Linked DNA regions of Homo sapiens: region 1 is linked to region 2. The links come from fine-mapping of genetic effects on gene expression. A gene starts in region 2. The other region holds a variant in brackets. All regions are shown on one strand. Distances are from middle to middle.

Region 1 (5,374 bases), 61 kb after region 2:
TAAAGTCTCCCATTATTATTGTGTGGAAGTCTAAGTCTCTTTGTAGGTCTCTAAGGACTTGCTTTATGAATCTGGTTGCTCCTGTATTGGGTGCATATATATTTAGGATAGTTAGCTCTTCTTGTTGCATTGATCCCTTTACCATTATGTAATGGCCTTCTTTGTCTCTTTTGATCTTTGTTGGTTTAAAGTTTGTTTTATCAGAGACTAGGATTGCAACCCCTGCTTTTGTTGTTGTTGTTGTTGTTGTTTTCCATTTGCTTGGTAGATATTCATCCATCCCTTTATTTTGAGCCTATGTGTGTCTCTGCACGTGAGATGGGTCTCCTGAATACATCATACTGATGGGTCTTGACTCTTTATCCAATTTGCCAGTCTGTGTCTTTTAATTGGGGCATTTAGCCCATTTACGTTTAAGGTTAATATTGTTATGTGTGAATTTGATCCTGCCATTATGATATTAGCTGGTTATTTTGCTTGTTAGTTGATGCTGTTTCTTCCTAGCATTGATGGTCTTTACAGTTTGGCATGTTTTTGCAGTGGCTGGTACCGTTGTTCCTTTCCATGTTTAGTGCTTCCTTCAGGAGCTCTTGTAAGGCAGGCCTGGTGGTGACAAAAATCTCTCAGCATTTGCTGTCTGTAAAGGATTTTATTTCTCCTTCACTTATGAAGCTTAGTTTGGCTTGATACGAAACTCTGGGTTGAAAAGTGTTTTCTTTAAGAATGTTGAATATTGGCCCCCACTCTTCTGGCTTGTAGAGTTTCTGCTGAGAGATCAGCTATTATTCTGATGGGCTTCCCTTTGTGAGTAACCTGACCTTTCTCTCTGGCTGCCCTTAACATTTTTTCGTTCATTTCAACCTTGGTGAATCTGACAATTATGTGTCTTGGGGTTGCTCTTCTCAAGGAGTATCTTTGTGGCGTTCTCTGTATTTCCTGAATTTGAATGCTGGCCTGCCTTGCTAGGTTGGGGAAGTTCTCCTGGGGGATAATATCCTGAAGAGTGTTTTCCAACTTGGTTCCATTCTCTCTGTCACTTTCAGATACAACAATCAAACATAGATTTGGTCTTTTCACATAGTCCCATATTTCTTGGAGGCTTTGTTCGTTTCTTTTTACTCTTTTTTCTCTGAACTTCTCTTCTTGCTTCATTTCATTCATTTGATCTTCAGTTACTGATACCCTTTCTTCCACTTGATCGAATCGGCTACTGAAGCTTGTGCATGCGTCACGTAGTTCTTATGCCATGGTTTTCAGCTCCATCAGGTCGTTTAAGGTCTTCTCTGTGCTGTTTATTCTAGTTAGCCATTTGTCTAATCTTTTTTCAAGGTTTTTAGCTTCTTGGCGATGGGTTCGAACATCCTCCTTTAGCTCGGAGAAGTTGGTTATTACCGATCTTCTGAAGCCTACTTCTGTCAACTCGTCAAAGTCATTCAGAGGAAGGAGTTTTGGAGGAAGGAGAGACCTAGGGAGGGTTTTTTGTTTTGTTTTTGTAAGAGAAGGATGTTGGCCAGGCGCGGTGGCTCACGCCTATAATCCCAGCACTTTGGGAGGCCAGTGCAGGCCGATCATGAGGTTAGGAGATTGAGACCATCCTGGCCAACATGGTGAAATGCCGTCTGTACTAAAATACAAAAAATTAGCCAGGCGTGATGGTACACACCTGTAGTCCCAGCTACTTGGGAGGCTGAGGCAGGAGAATTACTTGCACCTGGGAGGCAGAGGTTGCAGTGAGCTGAGATTGCGCCACTGCACTCCAGCCTGGCGACACAGCGAGACTCCGTCTCAAAAAAAAAAAAAAAAAAAAAAGGAGGATGTCATGAGGGGTGCAAGGTTGACATAGAGAGGGTAGAGGAAAGCCTGAGTATAGGGAACCTCTTGCCATTTGCCATTCCTGGTGATAAAATTGTCAAGGTCCCTGAGAATCTGAAAGTTAAAGGGTGCTGTTCTCAGGCAATTGGCTGTTATTATCTTGTTTGTATTGGGACCAGGCCATATTGCAATAAAAAACTAAACACTTTGGCTTTAGGAGTCCCTGTGAGCCAAGTTTGGCGAGGTTGTGAAGGAGACAGCCCAGAGGGGAGGCGTGGGAATGTGGGATGGTTTGGCACCATGTGGGCTGGTGAGAGGAGGCCCGGGGGGGTCTATTTTTATTAGGCATCCCCAGACAAGAGACCTGGAATCTTCTTTCCAAAGAGGACAGTTAAGCTGAGAAGAAACTGGGCGCCCCCAAGATGTCCTCTAGCTTAGTCCCACTGGTCCTCTGAGGACTGGGACGGCAGACCGAACTTTCTCAGGTACCACGAGAAAGCCAGGAGAAGGCAGATCTTACCAGTCAGCTGAATTAGTGTCTGATGTTGGATGTTCCAGTTGGAATCACCAAAGGGCTTCCCGAACCGGCATGCGTGAGGAAGAGAGAGGGAGAGGGAGAGAGAAAGAAGAGGGAGAAAGAGGGAGCAAGGGTTAGGGAGCGAAATACCCATCGCTGGTGGTTGGAGGTGGATTCCTGAGACCTGAGGGTTTTGAGAGCCCACTGGGGAGTAGCCCCCGCCCGAGCCTCGCAGTCCCCTTCAGATTAGTTGTCCTCGCACAAATTGCTGGAAGAGTGAAGTGAGAGAAAAGATGGGGTGCATGGCCAGAGACTCTCAGGATCCAGGAGTTAACTCAGGACAAGCTGCCGCTGCCCACTGCTTCCTGGGTTGCAAGAGAGCCTCTGTCCCCAACATCTGTCCCGGGTTTCAGCACCAAATGTAAGTGTT[A/G]AAGAGGAAAGAAACACGAAAAGCAGCTCAACAGTGAAAAATAGGTTTATTTTGGACAATAAACCTGAGAGGGCCTTCTGGCCAAGTTAGGTCAGAGGCACTCTCTTACGGGCTAAGAGTATTTAAGCGTTCAGGGTGGGAGAGCTTATCACAGGCTCGAAATGTTTCTGTGTGTCTCTTTGTCTTGCTTATCTGGAAGGGAGAGTTTTGTGTCTGTTCCCCATACATCTTCCTGCAACTGCAGGCATAGCCCCCACGTCTGCTTTTAGCTTTCCTATCTTGGTGCACCTAAAGGGAAACGAATGTGCTTATTAGGACCCACTGTTCTACTGGGGCACATGGTATGAGTGTGAAGTTTGGTGCTTACCCAAGAGACTTTCCCCTCTCTGTCTGTGCCCAGCTGTGTTATCTGTGTTTTACTATCTGCTCTTTCTGGCTGCTGCTTGTTAGAATCTCGAGAAGTGATTTCCTTGAAATGCAGGAGGTTAGAAAGGGAGCTGGCACTGAAAGTGGCAGTGTTTGTCCAAGATGAAGGTGCTCCTGCTCTGTCAAGGAGGAGGAGTTACTTCTGCGGCAGGATGAGCCCCAGGATAACCTCGGCGAAGCAAGCCACACCATCCTCTTCCTGGGTTTTCAGGCGCTTGGGGCTACCAGCCCGTCCTGAACCCAACACAGAGCTCTGAGCTGGCCAGCTGAGGGGGCCACATCACCGGACTCCCGGAGGCAGCTGCGCTTGCTGGGACACCTTCCCACATTCTGCTCTGGTGGTACCTGACCTTGTGCCAATCCAGCACCATGGACCCCCTTCCCTCTTCCTCCCACTGCCCATCACAGTTCTCACAGTTTCAGAGATGCCAGCGTGCTTTGGAGAAGTCAGAATGATCCGATATTTACTAAAGGCTTTGGTTTGGCTTCCAAGCTCAGTGTGCTTCTGAGATCACCAAGCGCTTCTGTCTGCGCAGGCCACTTCACAGATGCCTAACTGCTTCAGGGGCTACAGAGCACTTTGATTACTTTGCAATACAAAGTCCAGAGCTGTCAAAGCGCTTCCGAAGACCACAAAGGGCTTTAAGGTCCACACATGGCTGCTGGACCCATGGGCTCCCGCAGCTCGCCCACCTGCCCTGGGCTGGAAGGGGCCCAAGCGCCCCTCAGAGCCAGCCGCACCCCTGAAGGCTGCCTCCGGACAGCCCACCTGGCTGCCGAGGCCCAGACACCCGCCCTGCCTGCCCCGTTGGGCCGCCCACACTGTTCTGCCCTGCCTGACCTCTGCCCAAGATGACACCACTCTGACCTCCCCAGCGCCTGCCCTCTGGTATGTTTTTCTCTATACATACATACCTATGATAAAGATTATTTGTTAGGCTAATAATAACCAATAAAATAGAAAAACTATAACAATATATTATAATAAAAGTTGTGTGACGTGCTCTCTCTTTTTCAAAATATCCTGTATTCTTATGATGATGATGTGAGATGCCCCAGTCCCTGTGTGTGGGATAAGTGAGGGGAATGGTGTAGGCATTGTGACATAGGGCTAGGCTGCTCCTGAGCTTCCTGTGATATGTCGGGAGGGTCACGCAGCCATGACAGTGTCGGTGGTTGTGTGTCAGGAGCAGATGATGTGGCCGACTGACGGGCGAGCCACGTTTGCAGCCGGGGTACACAGGACAAAGGGGTGGCACACATCCCTGGGGGGATGGTGCAGGATGTCATCGTGCTATCAGATTGGCATGCAATTTAAAACTTAGGGAATGCTTTTTTCTGGAATGTCCCATTTAACGTTTTCTGACTGCAGCTGATTTCAGTTAACTGAAACTGCAGAAAGTGAAACCATGGGTAAGTAGGGACAGCTGTATGACTTGAACTGACACATTCGTTTTTGCTTAAATGAGTTGTGGAGAATCCACAATTCTACTGGTCTATGATGAAAGATGAAAAAGACCATGTCCTTTTCAATTTCTCCTTTAGAGAGGGGAGACCTTGTTGTAGGAGTGAATCTTGGGTGGCTCCTGGCTTTCCACTGTCCACCGATGCTCTGCTGTGTCCACACACTTTCAAGCCCTATGCCCGCTCCCACGCTTGCTCTTTATGAGTGCTTTTGTCCTGTAAAATGGCCCCACAGCAGAAGCCTAGTGTGGTAGCAGCCTGGTTCACATGAATAGGACTTTCACGGAGTAGCTCCGTTTCCAGGTGTGACTTCGGAGCCCAGCATGCCTAGTTTCATGCCACAGTGACCCAAGTGAGTCACCCCGTCTGCTCCAGTCCCCTGTCCCCAATTCCCTGTCATCTCAGCCACCCATTTTCATTTTGAAAATCAATCTCATGGAAGTTTCTATTTGCTTTTATTGCTTTCTTTGTTTTCTTGTCTATTTCCTAGTACTCATACGTGCCATTAAAAAGGTGACTGGAAAAACAGCTCTTAAAACTGCAAGAGAAATAGTATATAGGGTTTTGTGTAATAAAAAATACTGCAACTTTCCAATACTGATAAATGTGGACCCTTGGTAGGATTGTATAGTTTTTTCATGTGAAATATGAAATTCAGGATTTCTCATAAATTTAGGATTGCTTTGTAAAAATCCTTCACTGTTGGTAGGAAGTAGTTTATATTA
Region 2 (5,374 bases):
ATGACTAGCTGGGATTACAGGCACCTGCCACCACACTCAGGTAATTTTTGTATTTTGTTGGCCAAGCTGGTCTCAAACTCCTGAGCTCAAGTGATCCGTGCTCTTCAGCCTCCCAAAGTGCTGGGATTATAGGCATGAGCCACTGCACCTGGCCTGTTTTTAATACAAGTGACTCCATTTTAATTCTGACAACTTTCACAGTAGCTTATCTCCAAAGGCGGTGCACCTCCTAGGATCCCAGCACTTTGGGAGGCTGAGGCAGGCAGACTGCTTGAGCCCAGGAGTTCAAGACCAGCCTGGACAACATAGTGAAACCTTGTCTCTACAAAAAATACAAAATTAGCTGGTTGTGTTAGTGCACACCTGTAGTCTCAGCTACATGGGAGACTGAGGCCGGAGGATCTTTTGAGTGGGAGGCAGAGGCTGCAGTGAGCCGAGATTGCGCCACTGCATTCTAGCCTGGGTGACAGGGAGACTCTGTCTCAAAAACAAACAGGTCATGTGAGAAATGGCTGATAGATCACACCAGGCTTCTTAGAGCCCAGAATAGTTTGGGTCCCTTTCCCCTTTTCATAACATGATCATAGCACCTTTCATTTCCTTTTCTATCACAGCTGTAATTATTTATTTATTTATTTATTTATTTATTTGAGACAGAGTCTTGCTCTGTTGCTCAGGCTGGAGTGCAGTGGCGTGATCTTGGCTCACTGCAAGCTCCACCCCCTGGGTTTAAGCAATTCTCCTGCTTCAGCCTCCCAAGTACCTGGGATTACAGGCACCCGCCATCACGCCCAGCTAATTTTTGTATTTTTAGTAGAGATGGATTTCGCCATATTGGCCAAGATGGTCTTGAACTCCTGAGCTCAGGTGATCCCCGCCTCACCTTCCCAAAGTGCTGGGATTATAGGCGTGAGCCACCATGCCCATGCCCGGTCAATTAAGTAATTATTTAGGTTATTGTTTGTTCTTGACTAGAAAAGGACAGGGACCTCATCTGTCTATTCGTGTTGTGTTTCCAGAGCTGAGAGTTGTTCCTGGCACACACACACTGCTCCATTAATGTTTGAAGAACAAATAAATGAGAAAACGAGTATGACGGGAGAAGAGGAGCTGAGGGCCATGTGGTTGTTCACATCCTTGAAGGAGTGTTGGGAGAGGGCTCATGCTGACCTGGGTGACGCTGGACAGCAAATCCAGGGAGATCTGACAGGAAGGAATTGCCAGGAGGTAGTTTGGAGTCAAATGCACACAGTGAGGGCCAGGGGTCCTCGGGGTGGTGACAGTTTCCTCTCGCTGGAGATGCCTCAGGAGAGACCAGGCAGCTGGCACAGAGCAGGGATTTCCACATCATCTCATGCTGCTCTGGGCTGGAGGTAGATACTGGCTGCCTCTAGGCAAATGTGGCCAGCAAATGTGCTTTGTTTAGTCCCTCCCAGGGTTTAAGATATTTTTTCGAATTAGTTTCCAACATTTTAGAATCAGAAGTGTCGAAAGACAAAATGACAGCAAATTTAAAGATCCTAAGTAGCTTTTCTTCATGATTCTAGAATCGGGCAGCCCTCAGAACCAACAGGTTCAAAGGACTTTGGGGCTGCAACGTGGTTAGACAACATTTATGGACAGAAAGTGGAACTGAGGCGCAGAGACAGCTTAACTGGTTACAGGTTTATGTTCTAGCTTATTTGAATCAGCTAACCACCTGCCAATGACAGAAGCTCACTGGCTGTGATTGGCTGAGACTCAGCTGTTTGTTACAAAAGCATCCTCCTCAATTAGGGTGTCTTCTCTTTTATGTTAACTATGCCAGGCTGCAGCTCCTTATGTAAGGACTCAAGTAGGGAGGCATCCTCAGGCCTAAACATTTAACAGAAGGTGTTGCATGAAAACGCATGTTTGGGCTGGTTGCGGTGGCTCACGTCTGTAATTTAACAGGCTCCGGGGTTGGGGACCCCTGCTCTAGCTCATAGAACTCCCTCCGACTCACCCCTTCCCGCGCCCCACGTCCCTGTGAACAGTCTGTCCCTGCAGGTACCCAGTTTCTGTTCTCCGGTCTTGTTGCTATGAAGAACCCTTTCCCTCTGCTTATGTATGAAAAGAACTTAAGAAATAATCTTTTGTTATTCCTTGAAGAGTTGCGGTTTAGGATTCAGAGCACTAATGAGATTTTGTGTAACTATTCCTTGGTGTCCTGGCTTAGGGTGTGCTTTGCTTGGTATCTCCCCCTTTTAACCCCCCTCTTCCTAATATCCACCTCACCCTCCAGATTCAGCCCAAACTCTGCATTCTGTCCCCTACCTTCTCCACTCCCCCAAGGCGAGTTAGGCACCCTTCCTCACTGTAGCACCCTGAGCTAAGGCTACCTAACTTACTGTTGGTAATTTTCTTTGCCTGTAATTTCACTGAGGGCAGGAACTGTTCCTTATTCATGTCCACACTTTTCTGCCAATAGTAAGCCTGTTTACAGTTTAGTGAATGAATGAGGATACATTGCAAAGGAAGCTTGGAAGTCCTTTATTTAACTCATGCAGACCGACTTTAAACCCACAGCACACGGGAACACGGGACATTTTGAGTAATGCTCCAAAGAGAATCTCAGAAATAGCCAAACCTTGGTTCTCATCCATTCTTGATTACAGAAATGGGGAACACTGAGCCAAGATGCGAAATCAGGAAAGTGCTTTTGGTCCACTGGTCTAGCTGCAGTCTAGAAGCGGCTTGCGGGAGAAGCTACCAGAAAGAGCCCGGAAGGTTCCTGTCATCATTCGGGGTGGCAGAAGTTTGTCCTGGCTTTTAACCTTTTTTGGGGTCACAAGACCCTTAGGGAATGAATATACAGCTATAGCTCCTCTCCCTAGAAAAATGCAGACACCCATAGTGTTTTCCAGACAACTGCAGGGCATTCGTGGACTCCCGAGGCCCATCCTTACGCCCCGACACTCGGGAAGTAGGAGTGAATGAATGCGCTGTTTACCTGCCCTAGGGACAAGAGGTAAACTAAGTCATTCATTCACTCATTCCTTCTGTCTTGAGCCCCAGCTCAGGGCTAGCCTGGGTGCTCCCGGCCGTGGGGCTCCGCCCCGGCACGGGGCCACGAAGGAGGGCCACCCCCCTCGCCGCGCGCCCGCGGCCCCGCTTCCACCGCGCCGCGCCCTCTTCCGCCGTGAGAGTCGCTTCCGCGCACGTGATCTCGGCGTCGCGCTCTGATGAGTTTTCCGCGGCCGGCCGCTGCTCAGCCGCTGTCGCTCCGGCTCCGGCTGCGGCTGCCGCTGCCGAGGCTGCTGCGCGGCGCCTGGCGGGCTCGGGACGCGCGGGCCGGGGCCGAGGGCTCTGGGCGCCGAGATGGAGCCGTGAGTCCCCGGCCGAGCGGGCGGGCTGGCTGGCTCTCCGGACACTCCGGCCGAAAGTTGGGGATCCCTGGCTCCCGGCGCCGTGCCGCAGGGTCCCTGGCGCCCACGTGGAACTGGGGGCAGGGAAAAGGGCGCTGAAGGGGGCTTCGCGGGCGGGTCAGGCGGAGGTGTTTGCGCGGGGCGAGAGTAGACCGGGGCCGGGGCTCCCTCCTGCCTGCCCGCCCGGCCGCGGTTAGAGACCGGGATGCGGTCGGGGTTCCGGGACGGGGCTGCGAGCCACAGCGCTCACCGGGGGGCCGAGAGAACCGGGGGCGCTGCGGCCCTTCCCCGGCGTAGGGTGGCCGCCCGCACGGAGTCCCGCCGCCTCCCGGGCAGCCTCTCCTGCCGGAAAGGCCCCGCCCCGTCGTCCCCTCGGTATCGAGAGCGCCCCGCGCTGCCCTGCGGTCTCGCCCAGCGCCGGGTGCGAGGCTCTCAGAGGCGATTGGTGACGTGGGCACCGGGGAGCCTGCCGCAACAGCCCCTTTGGACTCGGGGTGTCGAGTTATATGAGTTTTATGCGTTTTACGATCTGCTGACTTTGGGCTTTTTTTTTTTTCTTTACCTCTTTGAAGTCCAGGGTTTTTAATGAGGAAAAACCTGTTTGGGGTCTCGTGGACGCCATCCCTAAAGCTTGCTTTTGACCCAGCAGTCGCCTAGGTGTCCCCCTGGGCGCATCTGGAAAAGAAGGAGACGGAGTTAACCAGAGGGTTAGCGCCGCGTGGAGTTGCAGAAAGTCCGGGAGAAGGAGTGGCCCATATGTGCAGCCGCGCCTGGCGCAGGAGGCTTCCAGGGCCGGCTCCCTGCACTGAAGGCAGCCTCCGAGGGGCCTGGGCGCGCTTCTTGGCTTATATGCGGTTTTTGAGGCAGAAGGGTTTTGCTTTGGATCTTTGCTGATTTCTCTGGCTGTGGACGTGGTCAGAGAAGTGACACCCAGGCCTGTTGCCTCAGCGCAAGTGCCTGTGACAGAGAGATCTGTTTTTCCTTCTGCTTCCTTAGAAGTTTCTGACTTTGGTATGTTGCTTTAGCACCTCTTGGGAAACTGGAATGGCATCAAATATCAGACCTATGTGGATGTTTTAAAGATTTTAAAAGCCAAGTGGAGGTAGGTTAGCAGTATTGCCTCTGCACAACTCCAGAGGGCAAGATTCTTGTGCGGCCTATGTAAATAATACTGCTTGGAACGGTGTCTTGTGGAACTGTGGCCTTGTAGCAGAGTGACAGCTGCGTGTTACAGGAGTTCTCTCACGCGCTGCCCCTTGGAGCTGCATAGGTGGGCTGGGTGTGCTTTTTCAGTAGGAGAGAGGCCGGGGACGTGAGGTGGTGAGGGCCTTGGCCAGGACAGGGATCTGGGTCTTCTGCCAGGGTCCTGCGCTGTTACAGGACAGGGAACTAGACCAAAGAAAGCAGTTGACCAAGGAAAGGTCCCGAGGAGGACAAGCAAAACGCAGCTTGAATTTTGTGCGAGTTTGAGGCCTCCCCCTGCAGCTGTAAGCGCTTTGTGCCTCAGGCTCTGTGGAGCACTAAGAGGGTTAGGGAAGACGGAGGGGGATGAGGGTATCTGGAAATCAGCCCACCACCATCGGCCAGCATTCCAGGCACCTACCTGGAAACTGAGAAGAGTTTGGTAGCAGATAAAATCCTCCTAAAAAACAAGCCTGAAAATCCGAAGTGCGTCCTGGACTTAGGTGACTGAGTGTTCTCTGTCCTTGTCTGGTGTGCCTGAGAGCCCAGAGGTGAGAAAGGTGAGAAAGAAGAGAAGTCCAGGGAAAGAATGGGAGAGAACAGAGCCGCTTGGAGGAGCAGGGGCAGCTCCACCACTCTGCTTACGGTGTGTAGGGGACCGTCCCCCTGCAGACCCTGGCCTTATGACCTCTGACTCTCATTCGGCCCAGCCTGCTCTTTAAAAATGTAGGAGAGATTGCCATCAAAACTCATCAGCAAAAAAGGTTAGCAGTTCTTAACAGTTTTACCTTGAACTCTCCTGCAGT

What was found. PIP is the estimated chance that this variant, and not a neighbour inherited with it, causes the effect.
Region 1: its variant is fine-mapped to the expression of TMEM181 in whole blood (TOPMed, PIP above 0.99).

The regions. Positions count from the first base shown.
Region 1 is chr6:158,618,081-158,623,454 of GRCh38, forward strand. The region is part of intron 10 of TMEM181 (transmembrane protein 181); the gene reads left to right. Among named protein-coding and RNA genes, the nearest start is that of MIR7161, 11 kb to the left of the region's middle. The variant A/G (reference allele first, on the strand shown) is at 2,760.
Region 2 is chr6:158,556,886-158,562,259 of GRCh38, forward strand. TMEM181 (transmembrane protein 181) reads left to right here and starts at 3,206. Exons shown (of 17, transcript NM_001376852.1): 1 at 3,206-3,347. The coding sequence starts at 3,340. RefSeq lists a silencer at 2,897-3,816 and enhancers at 4,236-4,737, 4,738-5,237.